Homo sapiens: one gene and its partners. The protein of the gene in region 1 purifies or fractionates together with the protein of each later gene. This does not show direct contact. Each region holds a gene or a part of one and is shown in the gene's direction. Other genes may lie near its edges. The genes, in order: PDGFA, GM2A, PMEPA1, KRT72, DAAM2, VAMP7 and ITM2B.

What was found.
Region 2: the proteins of PDGFA (region 1) and GM2A purify together in Homo sapiens (affinity purification with mass spectrometry, with the first as the bait; one study listed by BioGRID). This does not show direct contact.
Region 3: the proteins of PDGFA (region 1) and PMEPA1 purify together in Homo sapiens (affinity purification with mass spectrometry, with the first as the bait; one study listed by BioGRID). This does not show direct contact.
Region 4: the proteins of PDGFA (region 1) and KRT72 purify together in Homo sapiens (affinity purification with mass spectrometry, with the first as the bait; one study listed by BioGRID). This does not show direct contact.
Region 5: the proteins of PDGFA (region 1) and DAAM2 purify together in Homo sapiens (affinity purification with mass spectrometry, with the first as the bait; one study listed by BioGRID). This does not show direct contact.
Region 6: the proteins of PDGFA (region 1) and VAMP7 purify together in Homo sapiens (affinity purification with mass spectrometry, with the first as the bait; one study listed by BioGRID). This does not show direct contact.
Region 7: the proteins of PDGFA (region 1) and ITM2B purify together in Homo sapiens (affinity purification with mass spectrometry, with the first as the bait; one study listed by BioGRID). This does not show direct contact.

The regions. Positions count from the first base shown.
Region 1 is NC_000007.14:509,459-513,433, reverse strand, and holds part of PDGFA (platelet-derived growth factor subunit A isoform 2 preproprotein), read left to right. Parts: intron 1-978; coding exon 979-1,083; intron 1,084-2,437; coding exon 2,438-2,625; intron 2,626-3,975.
Region 2 is NC_000005.10:151,263,095-151,267,069, forward strand, and holds part of GM2A (ganglioside GM2 activator isoform 1 precursor), read left to right. Parts: intron 1-3,636; coding exon 3,637-3,819; intron 3,820-3,975.
Region 3 is NC_000020.11:57,654,333-57,658,307, reverse strand, and holds part of PMEPA1 (protein TMEPAI), read left to right. Parts: intron 1-3,975. UniProt on the Homo sapiens protein: Functions as a negative regulator of TGF-beta signaling and thereby probably plays a role in cell proliferation, differentiation, apoptosis, motility, extracellular matrix production and immunosuppression.
Region 4 is NC_000012.12:52,598,305-52,602,845, reverse strand, and holds the start of KRT72 (keratin, type II cytoskeletal 72), read left to right. Parts: upstream 1-1,382; 5' UTR 1,383-1,393; coding exon 1,394-1,819; intron 1,820-3,543; coding exon of another isoform or gene 3,544-3,575; intron 3,576-3,733; coding exon 3,734-3,948; intron 3,949-4,541. UniProt on the Homo sapiens protein: Has a role in hair formation. Specific component of keratin intermediate filaments in the inner root sheath (IRS) of the hair follicle.
Region 5 is NC_000006.12:39,872,009-39,875,983, forward strand, and holds part of DAAM2 (disheveled-associated activator of morphogenesis 2), read left to right. Parts: intron 1-1,229; coding exon 1,230-1,347; intron 1,348-3,321; coding exon 3,322-3,460; intron 3,461-3,975. UniProt on the Homo sapiens protein: Key regulator of the Wnt signaling pathway, which is required for various processes during development, such as dorsal patterning, determination of left/right symmetry or myelination in the central nervous system.
Region 6 is NC_000023.11:155,936,549-155,940,523, forward strand, and holds part of VAMP7 (vesicle-associated membrane protein 7), read left to right. Parts: intron 1-3,152; coding exon 3,153-3,245; intron 3,246-3,975. UniProt on the Homo sapiens protein: Involved in the targeting and/or fusion of transport vesicles to their target membrane during transport of proteins from the early endosome to the lysosome. Required for heterotypic fusion of late endosomes with lysosomes and homotypic lysosomal fusion.
Region 7 is NC_000013.11:48,235,979-48,239,953, forward strand, and holds part of ITM2B (integral membrane protein 2B), read left to right. Parts: intron 1-3,975. UniProt on the Homo sapiens protein: Plays a regulatory role in the processing of the amyloid-beta A4 precursor protein (APP) and acts as an inhibitor of the amyloid-beta peptide aggregation and fibrils deposition. Plays a role in the induction of neurite outgrowth.

The DNA.
Region 1 (3,975 bases):
GTGCGGGCAGTGTGTCCATGGGCAGGACTGTGGGTCCTCTCCCTACTGCGGGATTTGGAGAGACCTGAGACTCCCCCAGCCTGTCTGCTGTAGCCGTCAGCGCCTGTGAAGGGGTGGTGTGTGCAGCTGGGTGGGGTGGCGGGGATAGGTTCTCAGTTCTGCTCCCCGGTCAGTGCTGGTCTTGGCTCTGGGCCACTGCCCCACCTGCACCTGGCCGCCTGGCTGTAAACACGGCTCGCAGATGCCAGCTTCTCTCAACCCCTCTCCGCAGGCCGCCTCCCTCTGTCAGGCTGCGGGAACTCCTCCGTGTAGCCTCCACGAGAGGCCACGTGCCCTCCTGCCTCTCCTCATGGCCGCTGGCCCTAGAGTAGACTCATTTCAGGAATGAGTGGGGTCTGGCCCGCAGCCCAGTCTGGCGGCTTCCAGTGCCCCTCAGAGGTTAGGCCACTTCTTCCAGGAGTGCTTTAGTGAGGGGGAGGGAGGGAGACGTACAGGCACCTGCAGAAATCTCAGCGGCCTCTGCTTCTCCCTCGCTCCAGCCCCCAGACAGAGGTGGGGCCTGGCTTAGCCCTGTGCCCCTCGGGGAGGTGCACGGAGCTGGGCGGCCTCAGGCCCCTCCTGCCCCGGGGCAGCCCTCACCTGGGCTACCTTGGAGGAGGCACCGTAGGGGAGACCACCTGCAACCTCTTCCCCGAAGGGCCCTGCGCTTCGTCACGGGCCCCTGAATGTGGGGACCTCTGTGCTAACGGGGCGTTTTCTGCGGTTTCCAGTGTTTCATGCCCTGCATCTCTGGAAAGCCCTGGTGGGAATCGAGGTTCTCCTGGAGGGCCCCTAATGGCGGGAGCTGTGAGGGGCTGTGCCGCCAGGTGCCTGTTCCCCAGTGGCTCCCAAAGCTGGTCTGTGGGAAGTGCGGCTGGACAGGCCCAGGGCACAGCGCACGGGCCTGGGGCATTCACGGTGTTCTCCTTCCGCCTGCAGGGAGTGAGGATTCTTTGGACACCAGCCTGAGAGCTCACGGGGTCCATGCCACTAAGCATGTGCCCGAGAAGCGGCCCCTGCCCATTCGGAGGAAGAGAAGCATCGGTGAGTCCAGGAGGCCGCGATGGGCAGGGCAGGGCCGGGTCAGGGTGAGTCCAGGAGGCCGCGATGGGCAGGGCAGGGCCGGGTGGGGAGGAGCTGCCCGCTCTCCCAGCGCAGTGGCCTCAGGCAAGCCACCCGTTCCCTCCTCCCTAAAATAGGCCTGGCCCTGGTGCCTCTGGCTCTGGCCTCTCCCGAGGCCTCCCTCCTTCGAGGGTGTCTCCTGCCCCAGCCCGCCTGCTCCTCCTGGAGTCCTGGTCTGGGCCAAGAGAGCTTCCAGGAGAGAAGAGCCATCATAAATTCCTTAAGCGCCCTGTCTTGTCGGGGCCTGTCCCCAGGAGCCTTGCCGGAAACGTGGTCGCGCCTAATTTCCAATTCGCAGTGTGGGCATCGTGCTCCTGCGCCGGCTGCTGAACTGGTGGGGACGCGCGTGCTGTGTCCGGCGGCTGCCCCCCGACACCCTCACCACACCCGTGTGCCCCGCCCCACTCACACCTGGCTCCAGGGCTCCACCCCCGCGTCCATTTGGGGGATATTTTGTCCCTTCTTACAGGACAGCCCCATGGCCCTCCAGCCCCCTGAGGAGGAACTAGCAGGTTTGGGGAGTTCAGGGGCCAGTCCCTGCTTTCTACCCAAGTCCCGCGTCCTCGGGGGTCCCACCTGATGGGTTTGAGCCCTGGTGCTGCTCATGGCTCTGGGGCCCTGAGCAGGTGGACCCCCCTCTCTGAGCTGTGGTTTCCTCCATGAAGATGGATTTTGTATCTTCCACCTTAAAGTGTCATGTGTGGCTGGCTAGTCCCAGCTGATGCAAGCAGGCCCTCCCCAGGTGACATTTGCTGTGGGGTCTGCATTTTGCACCCTTCAGACCACTTTTGAAGGCTAGAGCATGCAGCAAGTGCTGTAGGATTCACTGTTAAGGCCCCCTCCTCCCCCAGCCACTGGCCCCACCTGGACTAGGTTCCCCTCTGCCCCTGCCACCCCCAGTCTCTGGCCCCACCTGGACTAGGTTCCCCTCTCCCCACCCCCAGTCTCTGGCCCCACCTGGACTAAGTTCCCCTCTCCCCACCCCCAGCCACTGGCCCCACCTGGACTAAGTTCCCCTCCCCTCCGAGCCACTGGCCCCACCTGTCCAGGTCCCTCCAGCCTGCAGGCACCGGGCTGGGCTCCTCTGGATGTGTGGTGCTCCTGCCCACCCAGCCCCTAAGCCTCTGCTCCCAGCTCAGCCTCTGCTGCCTGGGAGGAATCCTGGCCTGTGGCTTACCCTGGTTGCCCCCCAGGCCCAGCTGGAGCCGCCTCAGCCCTGGGGTGGGGCCGTGGTCGCAGAGGCCGGTCCCCGCTCACTGTGCCCCCGCCGTTGCAGAGGAAGCTGTCCCCGCTGTCTGCAAGACCAGGACGGTCATTTACGAGATTCCTCGGAGTCAGGTCGACCCCACGTCCGCCAACTTCCTGATCTGGCCCCCGTGCGTGGAGGTGAAACGCTGCACCGGCTGCTGCAACACGAGCAGTGTCAAGTGCCAGCCCTCCCGCGTCCACCACCGCAGCGTCAAGGTGAGCCCTCCCCTCCCCTCCCCTCCCCTCCCCTCCCCTCCTCTCCTCTCCCCTCCCCTCCTCTCCTCTCCCCTCCCCTCCTCTCCCCTCCCCTCCCCTCCCCACCCAAGCCCGGGGCCGCCCCTACCAAGCAGCCAGGGTCCCTCCTGCATCCACCACCACAGCGTCAAGGTGAGCCCTGCCCCTCCCCTCCTCTCCCCTCCCCTCCCCTCCCCTCCCCACCCGAGCCCAAGGGCCGCCCCTACCTAGCAGCCAGGGTCCCTCCCGCGTCCACCACCGCAGCGTCAAGGTGAGCCCTGCCCCTCCCCTCCCCTCCCCACCCGAGCCCGGGGCCGCCCCTACCAAGCAGCCAGGGTCCCTCACGCATCCAACACTGCAGCATCCAGGTGAGCCCTGCCCCACGCAGGCCTGAGGGTCGCCCCTACTGGGTTGCCAGGGTCCCTCCTGGGAGGCCACAAGGTGCCCCTGGTGTGGCTGGTGGGGGTGCACGGCTGCGCTCCCATCTCCCTGGCAGGTACACTGAGGCCCAGGGAGGAGAAGGAGCACCTGGGGGTGCGGGAAAGGCAGGGCCGGCCGGGGCTTCTGCTCTGCTGCTCTGGCGACGAGCCTGGCCTCCTTTCCACGCCCTAGACCACAGTGCGGGGGCCGTTTTGGGCCTTGCGAGGTGTCGAGCTGCTTAGCCGGAAGCTGTCTGGCGTCCCCGGGCCCTGGAGGGTCCTGTGCGGGCTCTTCAGTGGGGGCCGAGGTGCATGGCAGGAGGAGTAGGGGGTGGATATTCAGAGCCTGCATTGCCTTTTGAAGTGCCTGACCTTTGGAGGGCCCCCCCGGCTTCCCCCCTAAAGCAGCCCAGGAGAAGGAGAAGGAGTGCTTGGGGTGGGCTCGAGGCCAGACAGCAGACTTCCTTCCATAGAATCCCAGGGTGAGCCCCTCTTTCTTTAAGTTGGGGGTGGTGCCTGCCTTCTTCAGGCTGCTTTAGCAGAATTCCATCCACTAGGAGCTGATTAGCAACAAATGTATTTCTCAAAGTTCTGGAGGCTGGAAGTCCAAGATCAGGGCGCCGGCAGACTGTGTCTCCGCTGGAGCCGTGTTTTCTGGGTTCATAGATGACACCTTCTCGCTCTGCCATCAGTGTGAGGGGCGGGGGATGAACATGCTCCCTAGGCTGCTTTCGAAGGGCACTAATTCCATTCATGAAGCCTCTACCCTAGAAACTAATCGGGCCAGGCGAGGTGGCTCACACCTGCAGTCCCAGCCACCGTGGAAGGCTGAGGCTGGAGGATCGCTGAGCCTAGGAGTTCAAGACCAGCCTGGGTAACATGGCAGGACCCCATCTCTACAAGAAATACAAAA
Region 2 (3,975 bases), on another chromosome or scaffold:
TTTTTTTTTTTTTTTTGAGATGGAGTTTCACTCTGTTGCCTAGACTGGAGTGTAGTCGCGCGATCATGGCTCATTGCAACCTCTGCCTCCCGGTTTCAAGGGATTCTCCTGCGTCAGCCTCCAGAGTAGCTGGGATTATAGGCGTGCACTTTTTTAGTAGAGATGGGGTTTTGTCACATTGGCCAGGCTGGTCTCAAACTCCTGACCTCAGGTGATCTGCCCACCTTGGCCTCCCAAAGTGCTGGGATTACAGGCGTGAGCCACCAGGCCCGGCTCCCAATATTTCTCGTATATATATATATATTTATTTATTTATTTGGTTCAGTTCTTTTTTCAGGATATGTGCATATCAACTATTAGATGAAAGCTCTTCTGACCACTTGCTAGGGAGAAGAGCCGATGAGGGACAAAGGGTCTCAGGAAAGGTTGCAACTTGACCCAGGTCACAAAGCTAGTTGTTAGCATGGACAAGGCTGGTATGTTTATCTTGGGGTTTGGTTCCTGAGCTTTTACTGGCAGGGAGGTAGACTTGGTGCTTGGTGTATTTGCAGGGGAGGGGAGAGGAGTGCTGCAGATTCAGTTCCAGAACTCTCCCCTTGCCCAGCAGACCTGCTTATGAGAGCTGCCCAGAACTAAGCTCTGGATGAGCCTGGAGCACTCTTGGGGTCCATGGGGCTTCAACCCCTTGTTACACTGAGGCCCAGAGGAGAGTGACTGCCCAAACCCAAGAAAGCAACTGCCATCCTCTCTTTCTCTGATCTTGCTGTAGTGAAATTTCTTTAATCAAAAGTCAAATCTGGGACCTGGCTGGATTTGACTCCAGCTGCAATTTTTAAAAGTTAAATGTCCCGGATTCCATGGCCGTGGGTAAGACTGGGGCCTGCTCAGGAGCTCCCTTTTCTCTTTTGACTTGCTCCATGGGATCTGGCATAGTTAATAACTCCCAATGCCCAGCCCTCCCTCAAGTTCCAGCCTGTGGGACCCTGGTTTTCCCATCCTCAAGAACTGTAAATTGTCACTGTATTTGTCATATGTACTTATTCCAGCCTTTCAGGCCTGGTAACTTGGCTCCCCCAGCACCCAAAGTCATATACATGCCTGGGCTCATTACTCCACCCTGCTTCCTTTTCTGAGTCATAGTAGCAAATAGATTGAGAATAAGAAATGAGCCATCATTTGTAATTTCCAAATGGTAGGTGTGGCTGCTGCCTTAGAACCCTCTGTTGACTTCAGTTCAGTACACTTCTTGTGTCGTGCTGGTCCTGTGCTGGGGGCAGGAGTAGAGATGAGGGAGCCACTACCTCTTCTGGTAGATGCAGCCCTACAGGTTCCAGCCTGGTGGGAGGAGCCCTGGCAGGACTTGTCCCCCTACTGGCCTCCTCCACTGTGTGTTCTCACTCAGGGCATAACTGGCTCAAACATTTTCATTAGGGTATTGGCGACACAAGGAGAGAGTATTGGCTAAGGAAAAAGGCAGGGCAGAAGTCATGGAGGAGGAAGCTTTTGATTTCAGGCACTGTGCAAAGTGCTGGTATTTCCCTCTCAATGGGACCTGTGAGAGAGGTAGGCACTCTAAAATATCCCACTTTTGAAGATGAGGCGAGGCTGGATACAGTGCTTCATGCCTGTAATCCCAGGACCTTGGGAGGCCGAGGCGGGTGGATCATTTGAAGTCAGGAGTTTGAGACCAGCCTGACCAACATGGTGAAACCCCATCTCTACTAAAAATACAAAAACATTAGCCAGGCGTGGTAGCTCATGCCTGTAATCTCAGCTACTCAGGAGGCTAAGACAGGAGAATCGCTTGAACGCAGGAAGCAGAGTTTGTAGTGAGCCAAAATCACACCACTATACTCCAGCCTAGGTGACAGAGTGAGACTCTGTCTCAAAAAAAAAAAAAGAAGGTGAGGGAATGGCCACTGAGAGAGATTAAGTAACTCACCCAAGGGCACAATAAAACTAGGAAGTGGCAGAACTAGCATTCCAACCTAGGCCCTCTGACTTTTCCTAGGCAGCGGGGTAGAAGCAGGTTTGATGAGAGAGAGGAGGGCTGAGAGGGTGCTGTGTGGCCAGTGGTGGAGATAATGGGTATGTCTTAGGAGCAGATGAGGCCAGTGAGAGGAGCAATTAGAATTTGTCCACTCAGACCACAGGATGTGCTAACTTCTTTGTTCTTTCTGGGCCTGGAGGAAGGCAGCTAATATCTCGACATCTGGGGCATCTGGAAGACTTGAGTCCGTGGCCTGGGAACCAGCCTGAGCCCAGCAGCCTCTTAGGACATAAGTGCCCATCCAGGATTTAATCTCTTAGAAACAGAGCCCCAAATAAAGTGAGCCTAGAGGCTGGGATTCCTAGAATGCTAGAATGTCAGAGCTGAAAGGGATCCTAAAAATGTGATTTCCTGCCATAACACGCACAAGGAATCAGATATTTGAGAAAGCTAATTTCCTGGTGCTCTTTCCTGAGAGTTTTCCCTTGATACCTTTGGTGGGTGATGGACATGGTTCTAAAGCCAACTCATTTGGCACTAGAGGCAACTAACACATGGTGACTGTTCAGCGCGTGCCCGGCACAACTGGGATGTCCACCATGAAATTTGGGCCACTTCCTCCTGGTCAGCTTCAGCCTCCAAAACGGGAGCAAAGTCATGACAGTATGGAGGTGTGAAGTGTGTTCTAGAGCTTCTCACCCAGCCCTACTCCAGGCACAAGAGTCTTTTGTAGCTTTCCCGGCTGAGTCAGGGAGCCCGTACTCCTTGAGGCAGCTCCATCTGTTGTAACCTAGCTATGATTTTATACCAGTCTCAAGGTGATCTTTCTATACATTCCTATTGTTCTTAATTCTGTCTTCTGTGGCTGTACGGAGAAAATGTGACCCAAGAGCAGCCAGTTGGGTTCATTTTGGTAACCAGCTCATCAGTTGGTAGTAACTACCTGAAGTCCTATGCAGAAAAGGATTTTGGGGCCACGACTGGGCTCAGAAGGAAAGCCCAGGAAACAATGCCACAGTTAACCAATTAGCAGTTAGATGACAAGTGCATTTCAATGCAAGTGTTAGAGCCAATCAATGGGTAGTGACTACCTAAAGAATTCTAAGACTATGGACTGAGCATGATGGCTCACGCCTGTAATCCCAGCACTTTGGGAGGTGGAGGTGGAAGGATTGCTTGAGGCCAGGAGTTCCAGACCAGCCTGGGCAACAAAGTGAGACCCCATCTCTACAAAAAATACAAAATTAGCTGGGTGTGGTGGCATGTGCCTGTCTGTGTTTCCCACCTACATGGGAGGCTGAGGCAGGAGGATCGTCTGAGCCCAGGAGTTTGAGGCTGCAGTGAGTGCAGTGAGCCATGATACAAAAAAAAAAAAAAAGAATTCTAAGTCTATGTATAGTTCAGTGTAGGGGGAAAATTCACATTTGATTATTAATGTCTGCCATGGGCACAATAATACACTATACTCACACATGGGCCACAATGTTGCCATTCCTAGAACAGACTATCTCTAAGATCTCATCCAGTTAAAAATTCTATGATTAAAATATATTGCTGCTTTTTTGAAGACAGAAGAGCTGGTATGTTTGCCCTGGAATTTACACTTATAACCTTTTTCAAACCTTTGTTTTATTTTTTTTTACCAGGTGGATTTAGTTTTGGAGAAGGAGGTGGCTGGCCTCTGGATCAAGATCCCATGCACAGACTACATTGGCAGCTGTACCTTTGAACACTTCTGTGATGTGCTTGACATGTTAATTCCTACTGGGGAGCCCTGCCCAGAGCCCCTGCGTACCTATGGGCTTCCTTGCCACTGTCCCTTCAAAGAAGTAAGTACTTAGGGAGGAGAGAGCGTTACCCCTGTGGCTAAAGAGATGGGGTTTGGAGAGAAGGGTCTTTGCATTCTCCTTCTGCAGATCTGCATGTCTCTGGATTTGTAAGCCAGTGTGACCTATCAGGAATCACTTATCTTCCGGGAGCCTCAG
Region 3 (3,975 bases), on another chromosome or scaffold:
GGAGTGTGAGGAGGACAGAGCCCTGCAGGAGGGACCCCGCTCTCCATTACAGTCCTGGGTGTTGATCTCTCAGAGTTGTGAGCATTGGTGGGTGTTCTGGAAACCCCAAGAATTTCCCTTTCGAATCTCCACAAAGTCAGGGGCAAACAGGGCAGATCTGGGTCGGTGGGAACTTGCCCGCCTCTGACGGTGAACTCCCGGCTCCATGTCGGCCGCCTGAAGCCCGGCTGTTCGGTATCCTTCAGCAGGTGGACCAAAGGGCGGCACAGAGTTAATCTCTTAATGGCTTCCATCTCTGCACCCAGGATGTGTAACTCAACCACGTGGGGCAGGAAGCGGCTGTTTAAAGAGCAGGCTGGGAACTGTGGGGAGGAGGTGGCACGTGGCCAGCCCTGGGGCTGCGGCACGTCTCTGAGCCGGGGCTCACCAGGTGTGGGGAGGACTCACAGAACAGGCAGCACTGAGTGTGGCCTCCCCACTTCTGGGGACGCCTGGGGTTGGTGGTGGCGCCCAGAGTCCCTGGGCTGAGCCAAGTCAGCTGAGAAGCCTGTTGGCCACAGTCCCTAGCCGGAAGGCCTGTCCCTGGCAGGTCTGGACACCTCTGCTTGCATCAGGCCCCAGCCTCAGTGCGTCACCAGGTTGCCAGGGCAAGGAGCATCAGCCCTGGGACCTCTGATGGGAATGCCTGGCCCACAGACCCGGGGCCCACTGTGCGTCCCAGCACGCTGTCCGGAGGGCGTGCTGCAGACCTGCTGCTCTCAAGCCCCGACGTGTTTATTTGCTGTTGCTACCACTCCAGCAACAAGCACTGGTTACGTCTGCCCAGGGATGCCATCAGGGACTTCAGGGGTTCACCCCACTTTCCAGAGGAGAAACTGGGGATGAGAGAGGTGGAACATTTGCCGGAGGCCACACTGCTTGTCACTGCCGGTGTGAAGAGCCCACAGCCTATTCCGTCCTCCCTCAAGTGCTGGGGAGAGTGACGGTGCCTGGACATTCCAGAAGGCACCAGCCCTGGAGGGGCACTAACTCCAGGCTGGACTCACCTTGCCCCTCGGAGCCTCAGTGTGTGCATCTCCACAGTGGGTTGAAGCTAGGCCTGTGCGGCCCGTGGTCATGGGGAGGATGCAGTTAGTGGAGAGTGTACCGTACCCAGAGGCCGACTGCAGGGGCTTCACTGTTGTGGAGCAGGAGACGGCACCTGGGATCCTGCTGCCAGGAAGGGGTAGGATTCCGTCACACCTTCGGCCAATAGAAAGTCTCCTCCCACTGTCTACCCAGCCGCCTGCACAGCCGCCCGGGATGCCTGGCTGGGTAAACGTGGAGCCTCACTAGGCCTAAAGCAGAATGTGGCAGCTCCCCTGGGGACCCCCTGCCAGACAGGAGTCCCTGGGCCCCGCGGCCTTCCATAGAGATCCACATACAGCTCTTATCTGTCCCGGGCCCAGTCTACATCCCCCCAGCCCATCCATGCTCTGCCCCTGGCATGGCTATCCGACCATGGCCCCTTTTCAGGGTGACCCTGGGGGTCCCCTCTTGCCTGTATGGAGACAAGAGCTCGTGCCTCACCCACCTGCCTCACCATCTCAGGTAAGACCCTGAGCTCTGAGGTCTTTTCTCGGCCTTGTCACCTCCTTGTTGTGTGACACTGGGCAAGGATCTGCCCTCTGAGGGTGAGGCTCCAGTGCAGGCAAGCCCCTCGACCAGGGATGGCACTTCCACCCTGGCGCTGCTCCGAGGGTATTCGGGACATGATGCAGAACGTCACTGCAGTGACCGCCCAGCCACGGAGTGGCGCAGACTTCAGGTTTACCCAGAAAGGCAATCCCAGTCTTTGTGCCCAAGGCCTGCTCAGACTAGGAACTCAGGCCTTGGATGGGGTGACCCTTTGTCCTCTTTATCCCCCAATCAGTCCTCAGTGTGGGTCTCCTGCTCCCGAGAGAACCCAGCCCACCAAGGGCCCATTTCCCAGGGGCAGGGACAAGACTGTGGCCAGGCCAATGTGCGACAATCTGCCAGCAGCGGGAGCCAAAGACCTAGCGTCCACTCCCATGGCCTCAGGAGATACCGAATTCCCCCAGGCCCCTTGTGCTGGGCTGTGGGGGAATTCAGTATCTCCTGAGGACATGGGAGGTACCGAATTTTTTAGGAACATCTCTTTATTCTTTAGAAACATCTCTGAGTCCTCGAAGTTTGATAGAAGGCCATCCCGTCCCCTTGGATGTTCCTGGGGACTCCAGGGGAAGAATGGGCAGCTACGTTCTGGCCTCGTGGTGTTAAGACTCTGGAGGGGTCTGGGAGGAGCTGCCTGAGCGTCAGCTCACTGCGGCTGCCTGGTTTTGTCAATGAGGTCTTTTCTGAGTGTGAATGAAGTGTTTTCGAGTGCGTTTTGCCCATAGCTGCGCTTGGCTGTAGCAGCAGGGTTCAGTGGTATGACAGAGACCCGCCGGCCCACAAACCAGAAAATATTTTACTCTCTGGCTCTTTATGGAAACAGTTTTCAGACCCTTGGTCTAGAAGCATCTAAATGGGGAAGGCGCAGGTGGACTGGGTGCGCCCACTTCAAAGAAGAGGAGTCCACCCCGAGCCCTGGGAGTCTGGGAGTGGTTGGAGGCTGCTGGGAGCAGGGGGCTCGTCAGCAGTGGCTGTAGGATTGGAACCTGTCCTTGTCCTCCACCTGGGGTGACTGGCAGACATAGCCAGAGGCTGGGGAAGGTTCCAGACAATTCTGAAGCTGGGCCCACCTCCCCCGACTTCTCAAGCCACTTTGGAACCTAATTCCACAAAGATGACTTGCACGGGTCACCCAGCAACTTCCGCACTTAAGTAGCAACCTGAGCACTCCCTGACTGCATAGCACGCCGGCGCCTGGCACTGGGGAAACGGTAGCAGCTCCTGCAGGGCGAGTGAGACCCCTGAATAGGCCACCGGGGGCAGAGGGACAAAGGCTGTGGTGCAGGAGGGGACTGGAGGAGATGGGAGGAGGTGCCTGACCCGCCTGGGGGGCTAACGGAGAGCTCTGGGGTTAGCACACCTGGGCAGAGGCTTGAGGGGCCAGTCAAAGTTCTTCAGGAAAGGGAGGAAAGAGGGGCCATTGGTCCAGACCCAGGATGGGCTCAGATCCAAAGGCAAGACGTGAGAGTCTGTGTTCACTGGGCACCTTGCAGAACACACTGTATGGTGCATTGCAGGCGCTGTCATCAGCCCGCTATACAGATAGGAAAACCCGTTAAAGGAAACAGCTATACTACGGCCGTGGACATCTAGGGGGTATGGGCCTCGGTAAGGGGTTGGAACTTTCTCTCCTGGAGGCAGCGGGGGGCCCAGACGGTTTAAGCAGAGGAGTGGCAGGGTGTGGGGTGGGGGGCATGAGGGAGATGTTCCCACTTCTGTGAGGAGGAAGGGCCCTGGGGAAGGGCAAGAGTGGAGGAGACCCTGGGAGACCCCTCAAGGACCTCAAAGACCAGCGGCACTCGCAGCCTCTGGGAGATGGTGAGACACGCAGGCTCGCCAGCCCTCCTGCTACAGAATCTGCATTTTTGCAGGCTGCAGATGGACTGTCTGCACATGGAGGCCCTGGTTCCATAGGACTTTGCTGTCCACTAGGCACAGATGCTGGGGAGAGAGGTGGATAGAACTGTCTAATAGAAGGAGAAGTGAGAGGGGATCAAGGGTGGGTGGAACAAGGGTGGTGGGGAGAGGAGCTGTCAGGAATGATCCTGTGGATCTGGCTTTGCAACTTGAAGAATATCAGAGCCATTCGCTAAATCAGGAGACGAGGCAGTTAAGACCTCCTTAAGGGGTAGGAGCGGTCCTGACGGGACAGTTTTGAGGGGCCACAGAGCCTCCTAGTGGCCATATGGGAAATTACCACCCTCTGGCCGTTCCTACCCAGGCTGCAGGTGAGCGGTATCCTACCTGGGAACCCTCAAAAAACCTGCCCCAAGGGAACGTTTGAGGTGATGGACATACTCA
Region 4 (4,541 bases), on another chromosome or scaffold:
GTGGAGGCTATGTCAGCCAATTACCCCCAGGTACCATTTAACCAACCCATGAGGTCCCCAAGGGGAACCCAGCCTTCAGGGTATCACTGAAGGTGCAGTAACAAGCCTTGCCCTAAGCACTCTGCTGTTTCACAATCATCCTAAATGTCCCTTTGGCCAAGGCCTGGGCTGAGCACTGGGGGAGCAGAGGAGGGAAGGGTGAATCCAGGGGGCCCTGTCAATCTGATAGAGGAAATGGAACACACACCCAGGACTCTGGCAGCTTAAGAAATAAGAGCAATGAAATAATCCCACCTGCATGCCAGAGGAACAGGAGAGCTGTTGCTAAGAGAGGAGGAGACTTGAAGGCAGCTTAAGTTTGAGAAAAGGAAATCGGGTTAGGTGGAAGAAGGAGCCTCTGTAGCTTAAAGGGAATGAAGTTCTAGAATCTAGTTCTTGGTTTTAGATCTGAAGAGTCTTGACCTCTTCCTAATAACTGATCACATTTTGATGCTGAATCAGAAATGACTGGGTGGCAAATGACCTGAGCAGAGGTTTGCTGGATGGGATAAATAAGCCTCTTCTGCTATTAAAAGAAAACAAAAATGAAAACAACCGAAAGCCTTAGGAAACACCATCTGCTAAACCATGCCTGAGTCTTCCTGTACCACCTCCCCAGGCCTTCTTCCCTCCCTCCCAGATAGCATGGTCCCCATTCTTAGTCCAGAAATGCTTAGTGGAGAAATCTTTTCGCTCTGGTCCAAAGTCAACCCTCAACACTTGTGACCAGAGGTCTCTGTGTCCTGCCTTCTCCAACAGACTGAGAGGTCTCTGCAGACGGGGCCAAAATCTCCTCCTTCTGAACTTCCTTCTTGCACAAGGGACAGAGCTGTCCTCATCCAGAAGCCTGGGAGGCAGGAGGAGGACAGGCTAAGGATGATTTTCTGCGATAGTCTTGACTCTATTCATGGCCTTCTGAAGCAGAAGCAGCCTGGACTTCTGCTTCACACACCTCCGTCTCCCCAGACACACACCCAGAGGGTCAGCCCCACTGGAAGTTTCCAGGGGTGATCTTGGGAGTGATAACCCCAGTAATTGGAGGCCAGCAGGTGGAGATAAGGTCGCTAAGCCATGATAATGCAGGAGGTGAGCCAAGTAAATGCTGGGTTCTGGGTCACTTTACAGGGATTCATGGGGAGTTCACGGTGGAACAGACAAAAATCTCGGTGAGTGCATGGTAATTTCCTACATGAAGAACCCAAGAGGCCTCAAGGGATCTAAAAGGTGTTGTCGACATACAAATTAGGCTGACTCCAGCCAGCCAGGCTATTTAAGGGGCGAGCTGGGCCGAGAACGCAGCGGCTGTTTGCGCCCCTTCTGCCTCCCGCGCGGCCAGCACCGGTACTTGCGAGCCATGAGCCGCCAACTGACCCATTTCCCCCGCGGGGAGCGCCTGGGCTTCAGCGGTTGCTCCGCGGTCCTCTCTGGCGGGATCGGCAGCAGCTCCGCCTCATTCCGGGCCCGGGTCAAGGGCTCGGCCTCCTTTGGCAGCAAGAGCCTCTCCTGCCTTGGGGGCAGCCGAAGCCTGGCGCTCAGCGCTGCTGCACGGCGGGGCGGCGGCCGCCTGGGCGGCTTCGTGGGCACCGCCTTCGGCAGCGCCGGGCTGGGGCCCAAGTGTCCCTCCGTGTGCCCACCCGGGGGCATCCCTCAGGTCACCGTCAACAAGAGCCTCCTGGCCCCGCTCAACGTGGAGATGGACCCCGAGATCCAGAGGGTGCGCGCCCAGGAGCGGGAGCAGATCAAGGCGCTAAACAACAAGTTCGCCTCCTTCATCGACAAGGTGAGTCCTCGGGCATTGGCCTGTCCCTGCGTTGGGCGCATGTGCACAGTGGTGCTGGCTCTGCCACTGGCGAGCTGTGTGGGAGCGTGGGCGGGTCATAACCTCTCCGAGCCTCCCTTTTCCATTTGTAAAATGGGCACAATAATGGGTCTTACTCCAGTGGGTTGCGATGAGGCTTAATTGGGATGTTTACGAAGTGCTCAGAACAGTGCCTGGCACATACTTCCAATAAACAGGATGTATTAGCCCATTTTCATGCTGCTGATAAAGACATACCCGAGACTGGGAAAAAAAAAAAGAGGTTTCATTGGACTTACAGTTCTCCATGGCTGGGGAGGTCTCAGAATCATAACGGGAGGCCAAAGTCACGTCTTATATGGCGGCGGCCAGAGAAAAATGAGGCAGAAGCAAAAACGGAAACCCCTGATAAACGCATCAGATCTCGTGATACTTATTCACTATTAGGAGAATAGCAGGAGAAAGACCGGCCCCTATGATTCATTTACCTCCCCCCTGGGTCCCTCCCACAACACGTGGGAATTCTGGGAGACTTAATTCAAGTTGAGATTTGGGTGGGGACACAGCCAAAACGTATCAAGGACCTTCATTTCTTTCTTGCATGAGACAAGACTGTGAGAAGGGAGGGGTCAGGATGTCCAAGGAATGGGCACTTTGAGAGCTCCCAATATCAGAAGAGGAGATGGGACCCACATTCAGGGCAGGGCATTAGGAACAGAGGCCAAGAGACGTTGCAGGACATGGTGCTTGGTGCTTGAGGAGTGGGGTAAGTGTGTAGCCAGGAAGATGATAGAGGAGGTGAGAGAAAAGGGCCAGAAAACTGAAGGGTGAGGCTGAGGAGGCACTTGGAAAGAGTGCATGTAAAGTTACAGGTGTGTGCTGAGGGTGGGGCATCCAGAAATTGGGGTAATAGGGAAGTTGTCTCTGGAGCTTCTGAGGCAATGACCCCAGTGAGTGGAGAGGAGACAGGGAATGGACTTCTCTTGTCTCCACCTGGATGGAAGGTCTAGACGGTGAGTGATAAGGGGACAGCCTGATAACAATAGCTGACATTTATGGTGCCGTCCCAAGTGATTCTCATTTACAATCACAACCCATGATTCTGTTGTTGTTCTGCCTTGCAGATGAGGATATTAAGACATGGGAGGCTAAGAAATGAGCTCACCTTGGACAGGACAGTTGGTGGTGGACCGAGTGTCACCACTATGCTAGGGAAGAGGAATTGAGGTGGCGGGAGGGCACAGGTCTGCATGGAAGAAACACAGCAGCTATTCCAGAGGCCAGAGCATTCTCTTGCTCTTTTATGTCTGTTGTTCCCTAGCATGTTTCCTTCTGCCCCTCAAGCTGAAAGATAGGTGAGAAGAGGAATGCTGGTGTGTGGCAGAGGGCTTGGAGTTATTGAGTCTAAAAATGTGCACCCTGGTCAAGTATGAAGGAACTTTGTGAAGATGTGGTAACTTGCTGTGAACAACAAAGAAATGAACAAACCAAGTGCAATTTAGGCTACACAACAGGAGGAACGCTCTAAATGCCAGTGTGCTTTCCAATGTCACTCCCCAGTCCCTGTTTCTCCCCTGCTCCCCATTTCTCTTTACTCAGAAAACACCAGCATTTATAGCATGAGAAGCTACCTCTGTCTCATGAAAACTCACTGAGGCAGAGGCAGATGGTACCATTGCTTAAGCCCTCTTCCTGATTCCATATAGACCGGGTCCTATTTCTTGTCTTGGAGATCCAGGTGAGCATGTCCCTCGGCTGAATCCACCCCGGGATAAGCCTTGTTTTCTCCTACCCCCAGTCCCCCAGGATGGCTGCCTCTGGTTTTTGGGGCCCTTTCCCCACTCTTGAGAGGCAACAACATGGGGACTCTGGGCGATGACTGCCTTTGGGTTCCAGGTGCGGTTCCTGGAGCAGCAGAATCAGGTGCTAGAGACCAAGTGGAACCTCCTACAGCAGCTGGACTTGAACAACTGCAGGAAGAACCTGGAGCCCATTTATGAGGGCTACATCAGCAACCTGCAGAAGCAGCTGGAGATGCTGTCTGGGGACGGGGTGAGGCTGGATTCGGAGCTGAGGAACATGCAGGATTTGGTGGAGGACTACAAGAAGAGGTGAGTGAGTGGCAGGGAATATGGCCCTGGAGGATCTGATTTCAAATGAGGTTTTCGTTTGGAGATGGCATTTTTGCTTCTGAGATCCTTGCTGATACCGGGGGAGGGAGGAACATCCAGACAGAATGGAACTAGGAAAAGAATAGATCTACCTACACCGGTTCTCCAAACTGTCGAGGAAATGTGTGCTCAATTTCTAGCACTGAAAATGAAGGAATGGGGGAAAGAGAGTTGTATCAAAACCAGATGGACAACCCAAATGCCTTTGTAGTTCCTCCTGAGTGAAGTTTTCCATGGCAGTTCCCAGAATGTAAGACACCCCACCAATTCCAGGGCAAATTTTAAATCTAAAAAAAAGAATTTAAAAAACTTATTCCATGTTGAATCATGGCTGTGCTGCTGAATCCTGGCTTTAAAGAGAATAATTGAGAATGTTTGAGGATGATTGAGAATGAGATGGAACCAGAGGTTGTGTCCTCCTCCAAGTTGAGCTGAATATGAGACAGTAATAAATCAAGGCTCAGTGTGACCTGATATTTTGGAAGTTTGCTTCCAGATGCCAGGATTTCTAGGGACAGGTGGCTTCTTCCACA
Region 5 (3,975 bases), on another chromosome or scaffold:
AGGTAGACAGAAAATTCACCTTTCCTTGGCCTTTTTGTTCTCTCCAGACCCTAAGCTGATTGGATGGTGAGGAGCCCACAGGGTGGAGTGATCGTAGTATGGTAGTAGGGTTCTAGGTGGCCCCACAGCCATTTCTCCAGGCCCTGTGCTGTGGTGGAGCTGGTGTGGGATCTTCCTTACCCAGTCCTCTGATTCAAATGCCAGTCTCTTTGGGAAACACCCTCACAGACATACCCAGAAAGAATTCTTTACCAGCTATCTGAGTATCCCTTGATCCAGTCAAGTTGACACCTAAAACGAACCATCACATCTCACTTCCAGAGCCTTGGTAGTATGCAGGCTGTGGAAGCCTCCCCCGGGAAGGCATCGGCCTAGGAGGAGACTGAAACCCCCAAAGGAAAGGGAGCAAGTTATTGCATGTGATTAGTCTCAAATACCTTTCCTGGGCTGACTTTCCCCTGCCTTCCAGCAACTTCCTGAGTCCCCTCTCCCCATCCCTAACCAGATCATGCTTAGCAAACTAAATTGTATTTTCATTTTAACCTCGGCAACCCTGAAAGCACACAACTCTGCTTTATTGTGTTATAAAATCCCCATCCAAATAGAAAGCTACTTTTGGGTGGTGCTTTACAGTCACTGAGTGCATCCATTATATTTTCACAAAAGCCCTGGATTTATAGATACAGAAACAGAGGTTAGAGGGGATAAGCAGCTTGCCTGTCATCACACAACTAAAGCGTAGATCTGGGGTTTGAACCCAGGTGGTGGACCTGCGCCACATTCCACCTGCTACTTTGAATCCTCTATGCCCCTGCTCCCTTCCCTAGTTTGGATCAGTAGCTCTCAAGCAGGGATGATTTTGCTCTCCTCTCCCCCTGGGGACATTTGCAATGTCTGGGGACATTTTGACTTGTGTGAGGGGGTGCCACTGGCATCTGCTAAGGAGAGGCTGGGGTGCTGATACACAACCTACAAAGCACAGGGCAGCCCCCACAATGAGTAATTATCTGACCCAAGATGCCAATAGTGCTGAGACTGAGAAACTCTAGTTTATAAAATTGACTATCTCCCTGTTCCTTTTGTCTTTCTCTTTTTAAGCCTGGGCCAGAGGCAGGGGAAGAAAACCTTTCCTATGAGACAGGGCATAGTGGATGGAAGCAGGGTCTTCTCTCTCCTGCTGACTTCCTCTGCTGCCTACCCACTGATCACTGTGCCCTCTTCTCTCCCAGGTCCACATCGACACCAAGAGTGCTTCCCAGATGTTTGAGTTGATCCACAAGAAGCTGAAGTACACGGAGGCCTACCCCTGCCTGCTCTCTGTGCTGCACCACTGCCTGCAGATGCCCTGTAAGTACCCTGCACTTGCTGCTTCCCTCGACTGGCCTGAACCTTGACTTGGGGCAGGTTTAGACAAGACTTTGGGACCTCCCTGGTTTGGGGAGTCTGACCATGTCTCCCTGTGCACTTGCTTTTGGGAGGGCAGGCCCCATGACGGAGGCCCCTGCTTTTCCTTCCCTCCTTGGGGTCAGGTCTTCACTGTCATCTGGGGAAGGAGCTGGGGACTTGGCCCTGAGCAACTCCAACATCCTAGTCCAAAAACGGTAGCTTGATCATTGCAAAATTAAATAGCTCAGCTTTCAGCTCATGACGGGGGAGAGATCAGTCATGCTGGGGAGTTCCAAAAAGTTTTGTGCTTGGGGGAGTAGCACAGATGTGGAATGAACATGGTTGTTTTTTTCCTTAAGGTTTTATCAACTCCTTCATCTAGTCCTTGTTGGCTTCCACTCTTGCACTCTTGCCCCTGCTTCTGCCTACAAATACCAAATGTCAGCATCTATGGGAGCAGATGGCTAAGTTCTTAAGATCCAGGTGTGCACAGTGATTGAATAAATTGTACATAATTGCTAATAGCCACTCCAGAATGCAATTTGAAATGAGCTTTAACTGTACCCCTTGGTACTTAAGCTCTTCACAAAAGAGAATATTTTGAAAACCAGTGTGGCCCACCATAATGGTTGATGTTGGCGGTGTCAGCAATCATAGTGACAGTGATGACAACTGTGACTTATTGTGTGCCAACTCTGGGCCAGGCGTGATGTGAGGTCCTTTAGCACATCATCTCTGAACCTTAGAATGACCTAAGGAATACACATTATTATGTCCATTTGAATAGTGAGTGAACCTGAGGCTCAGCGAGATATTTACATATAGAAAGAATTTTGGTTTCTGCGGGGTCAAGGGTTGAGATAAAACATGTTCTGCCTCTTTGAGCTAGTGACCTGGCTTTACACGATTTTGCTGGGTGAAAAGTAGATGGTAAATGATACAACTTTGCAATGCATGTGTCAGTAGACTTGTGGACAGGATAGATGCAGTGACCTGAATTAAGAAGCTATCAGTTCTCCAAAGCTCATTGCAGCAGGTCTTCATGAAGGGCATAGAAATCTCTGGGAAACCTGACTTCTTGTGCTCCCAGGGATTCCTGTGTTTCCTGTTCCATGGGCAATGTGAATGGGTTCTTCTACTCTGCCCCAAAATGGGGCTTTGCAGACTCGATATTCTACCTTGTAGGCATTGTGGTTTGCTTTGATGTCAGGATTGAACTTGTTGGCTTTTTATGATGGTCAATAAAGTGCTAGGGATCAAGGACCAAGGAAAGAGAGTTTGTGGTTATTACATAAAAAGGAAGTCCATGTCCAGCCAGATGACTATCATTAGAGGGGATGAGAGTGAGACTCTATGAGATCACACACAACACACTATGCCTTTACCTTCATAGTTCAAGGTCACTTCCACAAGAAATTTTCTCGAGTTCCATTAAGCACTTCTCTAACCCATTTTGACTCTCAGTGCACACCTGCAATCAGTTTCCCTTCATCTTTCTCTGTAGAGTAATAATGTGGATAATCCTAAAATCTTTTTTAAAAAAAACTTCCCTGGAGACTTCATTATTCAGCATGTAATATTTTGGAGCAGGTGGTTTTTATAGATAATGTAAAAAGCAATCTGCACTTCCTGGGCATAGTATGCCCAGGGTCCAAACAAGGAAGAAAGGCAGCCAGAAAGTATTTCAGGGAGTAGAGAAATATGTTGGGGAGGTGGTTGACACATCCGTAGAAGTCTAGTTGCCGATAATCAAGAGATGACTGAATCAGTGAGTTGCCATTATCAGCAATGGCATTGCCTCTTCTTCTAGACTGGGAGCTTACCATAGGTGGAGAAGGGCATGCCTCACCAGCCAGACCCCAGGCAGCAACTCTAGGGTGGGGCCCAAGGGGGACTTCAGGACTCAGGAAAGATATGATACCTGTCATCCCTCAGACAAACGGAACGGTGGCTACTTCCAGCAGTGGCAGCTCCTGGACCGCATCCTCCAGCAGATTGTCCTCCAGGATGAGCGGGGTGTGGACCCTGACCTGGCTCCCTTGGAGAACTTCAATGTCAAGAACATCGTCAACATGTGAGCAGTGGCCAGCCTTTGCCCTGTCTTCCTCCACCTTCCTCATCACTCTCCCACTCTGGTCTCACCAGCGAAACCTCAGCTCCCTTTCGCAACCCAGTCATCCCGAAATGAGTCTTGGGCAGCATGGTCCAACAGAACTCTCTAAGCTAATGAAAAAAGTGCATTTCTCTACTGTTCAACATGGCAGCCAAATGTGGCTATGGAGTACTTGACACACGGCTAGTATGACCAAGGAACTGAATCTTAAAGGTTGTTTCATTTAAATTTCAATAGCCACATGACACGTGGCTAGTGATTACTCTCTTGGACAGCCAACACAGGTGTATTGGGCATGTTCTCAACTCTCCACGATCCACTGCATGGCTTGGATAGATGGGGAATTTAAACACATTAACGTAGAACAAGGGTCAGCAAACTATGGGTGCATGGGCTGACTCCAGTCCTCCAGCTTATTGTGTATGGCCCATGAACTAATAATTTTTACATTTCAAACAACACACACACACAAGTAT
Region 6 (3,975 bases), on another chromosome or scaffold:
AGCGCAGTATTAGGGTGGGAGTGATCCGATTTTCCAGGTGCCATCTGTCACAGCTTCCCTTGGCTAGGAAAGGGAATTCCCTGACCCCTTGTGCTTCCCGGGTGAGGCGATGTCTCGCCCTGCTTCGGCTCACGCTCGGTGGGCTGCACCCACTGTCCAACAAGCCCCAGTGAGATGAAGCCGGTATCTCAGTTGGAAATGCAGAAATCATCCGTCTTGTGCGTTGCTCACGCTGGGGGCTGTAGACTGGAGCTGTTCCTATTTGGCCATCTTGGAACAGGAATCAAAGGAAATTTTTTAAAAATCCCATTTATGATAGCATCAAAAAGAGTACAATAGTTAGGAATAAATTTAACCAAGGATGTAATAATGTGCACACTGAAAATTATAAAACATTGATGAAAGAAATTCAAGAAGACACAAATCAATGGAAAGATACCTTATGTTTATGGATTGGAAGAATCAATATTATTAAAATGTTCATACTGCCTGAAGCAATACACAGATTCAACACAATCCCTATTGAAATTCCAATGGCATTTTTCACAGAATAGAAAAAAAAATTCTAAAATGTGGATGAAACTAGAAGACATTATATTAAGTGAAATATACTAGACACAGATAGATAAATACTGTATGATTTCACTTATATATGGAATCTAAAAAAAATGTTCAGTTCATAAAAGCAGAGAGTAAAACAGTGGTTGACAGTGGGTGGGAGACCTGGAGAGATGTTGGTCAAAGTGTATGAACTTACAGTTGTAAGATGAATAAGTTCTGGATACCGGACATACAGCATGGCAACTATAGTTAATAATAATGTATTGAATATTTGAAATATGCTATAAGAATAGATCTTAAGCATTCTCACCACATACCCAAAAAAGTAACTATGTGAGGTGATGGATATTTTACTTAGCTTGATTGTGGTAATAATTTCACAATGTGTACATTTATCAGAATATCACATTGTATACCTTGAATATATACCATTTTTATTTGCCAATTATACTTCAAGGCAGAAAAAAATAAAATTAGAGTAGAAACAAAAGCTTGGAGGTCTGAAATGTTACTAAAAGTGTAACATTTTCCTTTTTTCAATATTCTTGCCACATGGTGGGTAGGTCCTTTTAGTCTGAAGATTCAAGTCTGTCTTATTTGGGGGATATTTTCTTCAATTAGTCCCTTGATTATTGATCCTTCTCTTTTGGCTGTATTCTCTCCTGTGACTGCTAATAGGTGTGTAAATCAGTACCAGGCACATAATAAGCACATGTTAAATATCTGTTGATCGTATAAATTGATCCTGGATTTGCTTGATCAGTTTTCCGTGTATCTTACATCTTCTTTCATGATTTACAACCTAGACATTTTGCTGTTTTCAGAACAAATTTTTTGAATTGTTACTGCAGAAGCTGCTTTTGCTCATTTATGTTCTGCTTTTAAAAAATTATGCCATTTTATTAAAATATAGTTTTTGGAATGTTGTCATGTTATCTAATTTTTTATGTCCTCTGATGACTTTGTTTAAAATTAGTTCAATTATGTCTTGTATCTGAGGATACTTATTAGAAATTTTTTTATTACTGTTATTCTATCTTGTTTCCCATATTAACTTTGTTCCATTAAGGACTGTTTGTCCCCATTGCTTTTTTTGTCTCCTCACTTTAACTGCTGTTTCTTCTCAAAAGTTCTAGTCAATGCATATATTCTATTCAACATATATATTTAGCTCTAGATGTAATCAGTTTTGGTATGTGCCTCCAGGTGGCATCCTGTGCAGTCTTCATGAAGTGAAACCCAAAGACTGGTGCCCCTGTCAGTTGTTCTACTGCAGAGACTTTGTGGAGTATGTGGTTGGAGATGAATCTATGGTTAAGGGAGTGGATTTTTTAAAACCAATATGTGAAGTATAATATACATAAAGTGCATCAACTGTAAGCATACAACTTGTTGTGTTTTCACAAAGTAAACATACCATGTAGAACCAACACCCAGATTAAGAACTAGAGCACGAACAGTACCCCAGAAGCTCCCTTCTCCCTTCTTTTAGTCACTACTCTTCTCCAAAGGTGGCCACTGTCCTGATTTCTCCACATAGATTAATAAAACATAGCAGGGGCCGAGAGTGGTGGCACACACCTATAGTCCCAGCTACTCAGGAGGCTGAGGTGGGAGGATCGTTTGAGCCCAGGAGGTCAAAGCTGCAGTGAGTCGTAATTGTGCCACTGCACTCCAGCTTGGGCGACAGAGCAAGACCCTGTCTCAAGATAAATAATAAAATATAGCAGGTATTCTGTTTATGTCAAGTTTCTATTGCTCAAAATGATGTTTGTGAGATTCATCTGTGGTAAATTGTATAAATGTAGTAGTAGATTGTGAATTGTCATTACTGTATTGTATTCCATGTTATGACTCTCCTGTAATTTATGCATTGCACAGTTGATGGGCATTTGGGTGGTTTCCAGTTTAAGGTATGAAAAGTAGTGCTGTCCAAAACATTTTTTTATATGTCTTTTGGTGAATTTGCATACATCTGTGGGACCATACCAGAGTGGATTGCTGGATTATTAGGGAGTTTTGTTGGTTGGTTGTTTGCCATTTTGTTTTAAACTCCTTGTGTCCTGGTGGGAATTGTTCAGTAGATACTGAGAAATTGATGATGCAAAAGAAAATGGATAGCAGAAGGAATGAAGTTCTATGGGTTTTGGCCCTCACAAAAGTAAATACATATCTTCCTACAGAAATCAAACAGGTTTTTATGGCTCAAAGCCCCGGAATTATACGGGGCAGAATAGGCGAATGTGCTTGCAGTCAGCTGGCTTTAAAAGAGCCTTTCTTATTGGAAGTATAGAGAGGAAAATTCTTTTCCACTAGCGGGAAGAACCACTTCTGGTGCTCAACATCATGTGCATTGCTGCAGTGGAGAAGAAAAAAGAGGGAAGCGTTTTCATTGGGCTCATACTGCTTATGATAGGCCTGGCAGAGTCTTGCTTTTGGCAACTATTGAGTATGAATGGCCAGTCTCTACTTGTAAAGAGAGGTCATTGGACTTAAATGGAATTAATGGAAGTAAAATGTTCTCAGGTTGTTACTGCAAATCATTCATGTAGTCAGTGCCAGGGGTTAAACAATTCTCGCCTCTTTTCTAGTCTGTCACCTTCAAAACTACCAGCAGAAATCTTGCTCGAGCCATGTGTATGAAGAACCTCAAGCTCACTATTATCATCATCATCGTATCAATTGTAAGTTTTTGTCCTTTTAGTGTATGGCTTTATTTTTCAATCTCTAAGAAATTAGGTACTAGAATTATTTCTCAATGATTAACACTCTGAAATGAGCTACATATGTCTTTTAATAGTGAAACACATGACCAGGCAGTGGCTTTCCTATGAAGTCACTATGAAATATCTCTACTTAAACCCCTCCTTCCTATTGAGAATTATTATATATTCTCAATAGGAAGAGATCTATAAAACTGACCTCACAGAAATGTAGTTATTTTAAATAAAGACATTTCTGGTTTATATGTAATGGGTTTATTGTTTTTATTTTTAAATTAATTATGTATTTTTAAAGTTTTAATTTCTAATATGGCAAATGCTGATAATTATAATCCCCCTTAAACAAGAACTCTTTGGAGTCCTCAGTAATTTTTGAGTGTGTAAAGAGGTCCTAAACCACAACTTTAAAAACTATTGCTAACAGGTGGGGGGTGCTTTACCCTGTTCATGGTCAGATAAAGTTGCCTTTCCTCCCCATCCTCCAGTCATGTCCAGAAGCCCAAAGTTACCTCCAAGCAGATAACTCTGACCCTGCTTCTCCTCTACCACAGCTTGAGGGTCCTCTGCCTTAGACAGCTGGATTTATCTAAAAGAGAAGAGCAGTCATAGATCTGTAGATTTTATACTGGAAGTAATTGTCATGGCCTTGAATGGTTCCTTGCTCAGGTTTCTCTTTCTAATATCACATTTT
Region 7 (3,975 bases), on another chromosome or scaffold:
TACTTTTACATTGCTCCTGTCTTTCTATTTTTTTCTTCTGCAGGGTGAGAACTCTCCAGAAACAGTTCTATTACCCCATTTTTCAGTCTTATCTTTTCAGCAGCTATTAATCCTAACAGCCATTTCTATTGATAGTTTTATCTCAACTAGCTTGCTGTTTATTCTTTTCCTGCATTTTCCCCTTAATTGTTTTCACCTTCCTCCTCTCCTAGTAGGCATAAAGCTCTTAGAGCTATAGAGACAGCAAAGATGGGATGTATTTTGGGTAGCAGAAGTGAATTTGAAATTATATACATGTTTTATGCTATAGGCAACAATTCATATATTTTTGTGGCAATACTTTGAACCTTGGGAAATTGTTTTATATTTGCAGATAACAAAATACTTGATGTACTGTATCAGAAGTCCCAGTTTTGTCATTACATAACTACTTGATCTTGGGCTTAAATTTTTAGGTTTTCTGTCTGTAAGATGAGAGGGTAGGACCAGATGGCCTGTAAGGATTCTTCCAGTTTCAAAAATCTATGAAGATGCTAGGATTACATAATTATATTTGGCAGACATTAAATTGTTTTAATTGTGAAAAATAGCAACTACCTCCTCACTCTAACCAGACTATTCCCTTTCTTCCTTTTGGTGTTTAACATGTTACATTCTTCCCTCATATCAAGTAGCAGTGGGTCAAAGAGAAAGGAGATGGGTAGAGGTATTATGTAATAAAGCACATTGTCACTTCTGTTTACCTCACAGTGAACAGTGAAGTTGTCAGCACCTCTTTGTTGCAATGCCTGCTTATGAAACCCCTTTTCCAGTATCAGGCCACAGAATAGCTTAAGCTTGCTTCATATGTATCCCTGCAAGTTGTTTTGCTGACAAATAGTGTTGCTTTCTCTCTACCCCACTTTGTAGATATTCTTTAAAAGGAGAGAGAAAAGTAAAGTGCTGATATAGGAGAGAAAATAGTGGCAGGGTGAGTGCAAGAGAGAAAGTGAAGGCCGACTCACCCAGTAAAAGTTTTGAGTTACCCATGACAAATGGCTGTTTAGACCCTGGTTCTTTACCCTTTCTGGTTTTCCCTATTCACACAATCAAGACTGAAGGTTTTGATAATTAAGCTTTTCGTTTGTGGTGGTGGTTTTGTTTGTGTGTTTTTTGGGGAGTGAGGAGAAGGGACATAAAATGCATGGCTGGCCATTTACTATAATGTTGATATAATGCTCTCAAGGGATTGAGAGCTTGGTTCTCTTTAACCAAAGTGCATCTTATTACCTAGTTATGTAATTCCGTGTTTGCAGATATTGGCCAGTGAAACTTTTACATTACATTTTGGTTCTCCATGAGGATATTAATATCTGAATTGAGGGTTTAGTGCTGGGAAATAAATGAATTGCGTCTGTGCATCCCAAATGCCTTGGCAGGACCTCCTGTGTACACATCCCTGACAGGACACTGCTGTAGCATATTGGGTGTGCAAGGTTGCATATTGCACAGGATTGTAGTCTTCCCAACTAGACAGAAATGAGTATAATATACTTGGCATAATAAGCCTGAGTGACCTCATGGAATTCAACTCTGACATATAAAAGGTTTATGTGACTGGAAGTATTTTTTAAGCAGAAATATCTCAAATACGTTTATGTTACAGGCCTATTTAAATTAATTTAGAATTTGACTTACAAGGTGTTTATTATGCATTTCCAAATCTTGACTTGTGGGTAAATGTACATAGAAACATGTACTAAGTAGTCATTGGGGGAGATTTTATTTCTCTTAGTTTTATCATACCATAACTTAAATGTCTGGCGTGTCTATTCAAAACCCACATTCTTTTTCCAAAAGGAAATACTACTTCCTGAATTCCTAGATTTAACTAAAGCTTCTTGTACTGCTTTGTATGTCAGTGTCAGTAAAGGAAGACTCAGAAAAAAAAATCTTTTTGGGTTACCAGTAAAATCATCCTCTTAAATTTTTTGGCAAACGTGGCATTTTATTAGAGCTTAAAGACTAAAGGAAAAGAAATTAAGGACTTTAGACCGTTACTGAAACCTGTTAAAGGATTTGACAATTCTGAATTTCTGAATGAGGTGATTTTTGCCTAAATGATATACAAAATATTAACACTGGAGCTGTGCTTCACAATGAAAGTCTTTTCCAAAGTAGACAGCTGAAAGTTGAAAATTGGAAATTATAACACTAAGGACATCATTTTTGAAAAATTTCCACTTAATTGTGATTATCCCTTTTAATTAGTACTTACAACACATATTTTTAATAGCTTTAAGGAGATCTACAATACAACCTCATTTTATAAGTGTTATCAACAATTGAATGAACAAGATTATTTTAAATTATTGTGCATTCTTTAAGCTCTTTTATTAGAGGAAAAAACTTTTTGCAGTATTTCTATAATTGTACTTGGGGAAAAATCAGGTAAGAATGAACGTAGACTTTTTATTCTTAAACAGAAAAGTTTGAATCTTGAGTTGTAGCGATGAGGAAATTACCCTTGTTTTTATGGTAGAGATATATTCTGATTTTTCACTTAATGTTTTATCTTTCAGTACTGATAAGTTACCAGCAATAATTTTATGATGTTGAACTAACATAAGTACGACAAAAGAGAAATAAAATTTTCACAGCTTATATATAATACCACTTCTGAGTTAAATATCCTGGACGTTTATTTGGGAAAGTGATACTAAGTATGGTGGTGGATATTTTGTACTTTGAAATTTTGAAATATTTGCATAAACCGTTTTTGGCATAGTTGAATTTCATACTTTAAAAAACAAGTTTGGTGGATTTTTGTGTTTATTTGAATGATTAACTTTAAGGCTCAAATTATTATTTTTTTTTAGTGAAAGCAAGTTTATTAAGAAAGTAAAGGAGTAAAAGAATGGTACTGCATAGGCAGAGCAGTCAAGATGCAAATTATTTTTAAAAGTTGTTTGTTTTCAGAATGAGTTAAGGATAAAGCTTAAGTCTTAACTATTTTCTCTGCTTATATATGATTATAATGTTTTAAATTATTTTATATAAAAATTTTAAAAGATGCATTGTTAATTAAATCACTTGAATCTCTGCAGTATCCAAAAGCAGACCCATTTTTATGCTGGGGAAAATGATTTTTGAGAGCTAGTCTATTTAGCTTTGCATTATCAGTTTTCAGTTTTTCATTTTATATAACTTTATCCAATTCATTTTTTCCTCCCTTTAATACTGGGACATAAAATTTCCTGTCTATCAGTTTTACCTAGGGCCGTGCTAGGCATCTTAAGCAGAGAAGGCAAATTCAGTGTCTCCTGGGCTGAAGCAGATGAATTGTTGAAGCTGGACTTTTTGCATATGAAACAAGTAAGAATATTCTTGGTTTTCCTGCCAGGCGCAAGCCACCGCCTGTAATCCCAGCACTTTGGGATACTGAGGCTGGTGGATCACCTGAGGTCAGGAGTTCGAGATAAGCCTGGCCAACATAGCAAAATTCTGTCTCTACTAAAACAAAAATTAGCCAGGCGTGGTGGCATGCGCCTGTGATTCCAGCTTTTTGGGAGGCTGAAACAGGAGAATCGCTTGAATCTGGGAGATGGAGGCTGCAGTGAGCTGAGATTGCGCCATTGCATTCCAGCCTGGGTGACACAGCAAGACTCTGTCTCAAAAAACAAAAGAATATTCTTGGTTTTCATTTTTAAAACATGAGTCCAGTGTTGCTGGATCCTCCAATTTTCCAAGGCAAGCTAAAAATCAGTACTATTTTAATTTATACAACAATTTTAGCCCAAAACACTGAAGGCATGGGCCACTATTTTATAATCTCCTTTAAAGTGGAACGCAGGACTGGCAAATTATAGCCTATATCTTCAAATACTGCCTGCCTGCTGTTTTTCTGTAGCCCATGGGGTAAGAATGATTTTTATATTTTTTAATGGTTGGGAAAAATATCAAAGGAATGATATTTCTCCTTTTTGCCCAGTACCC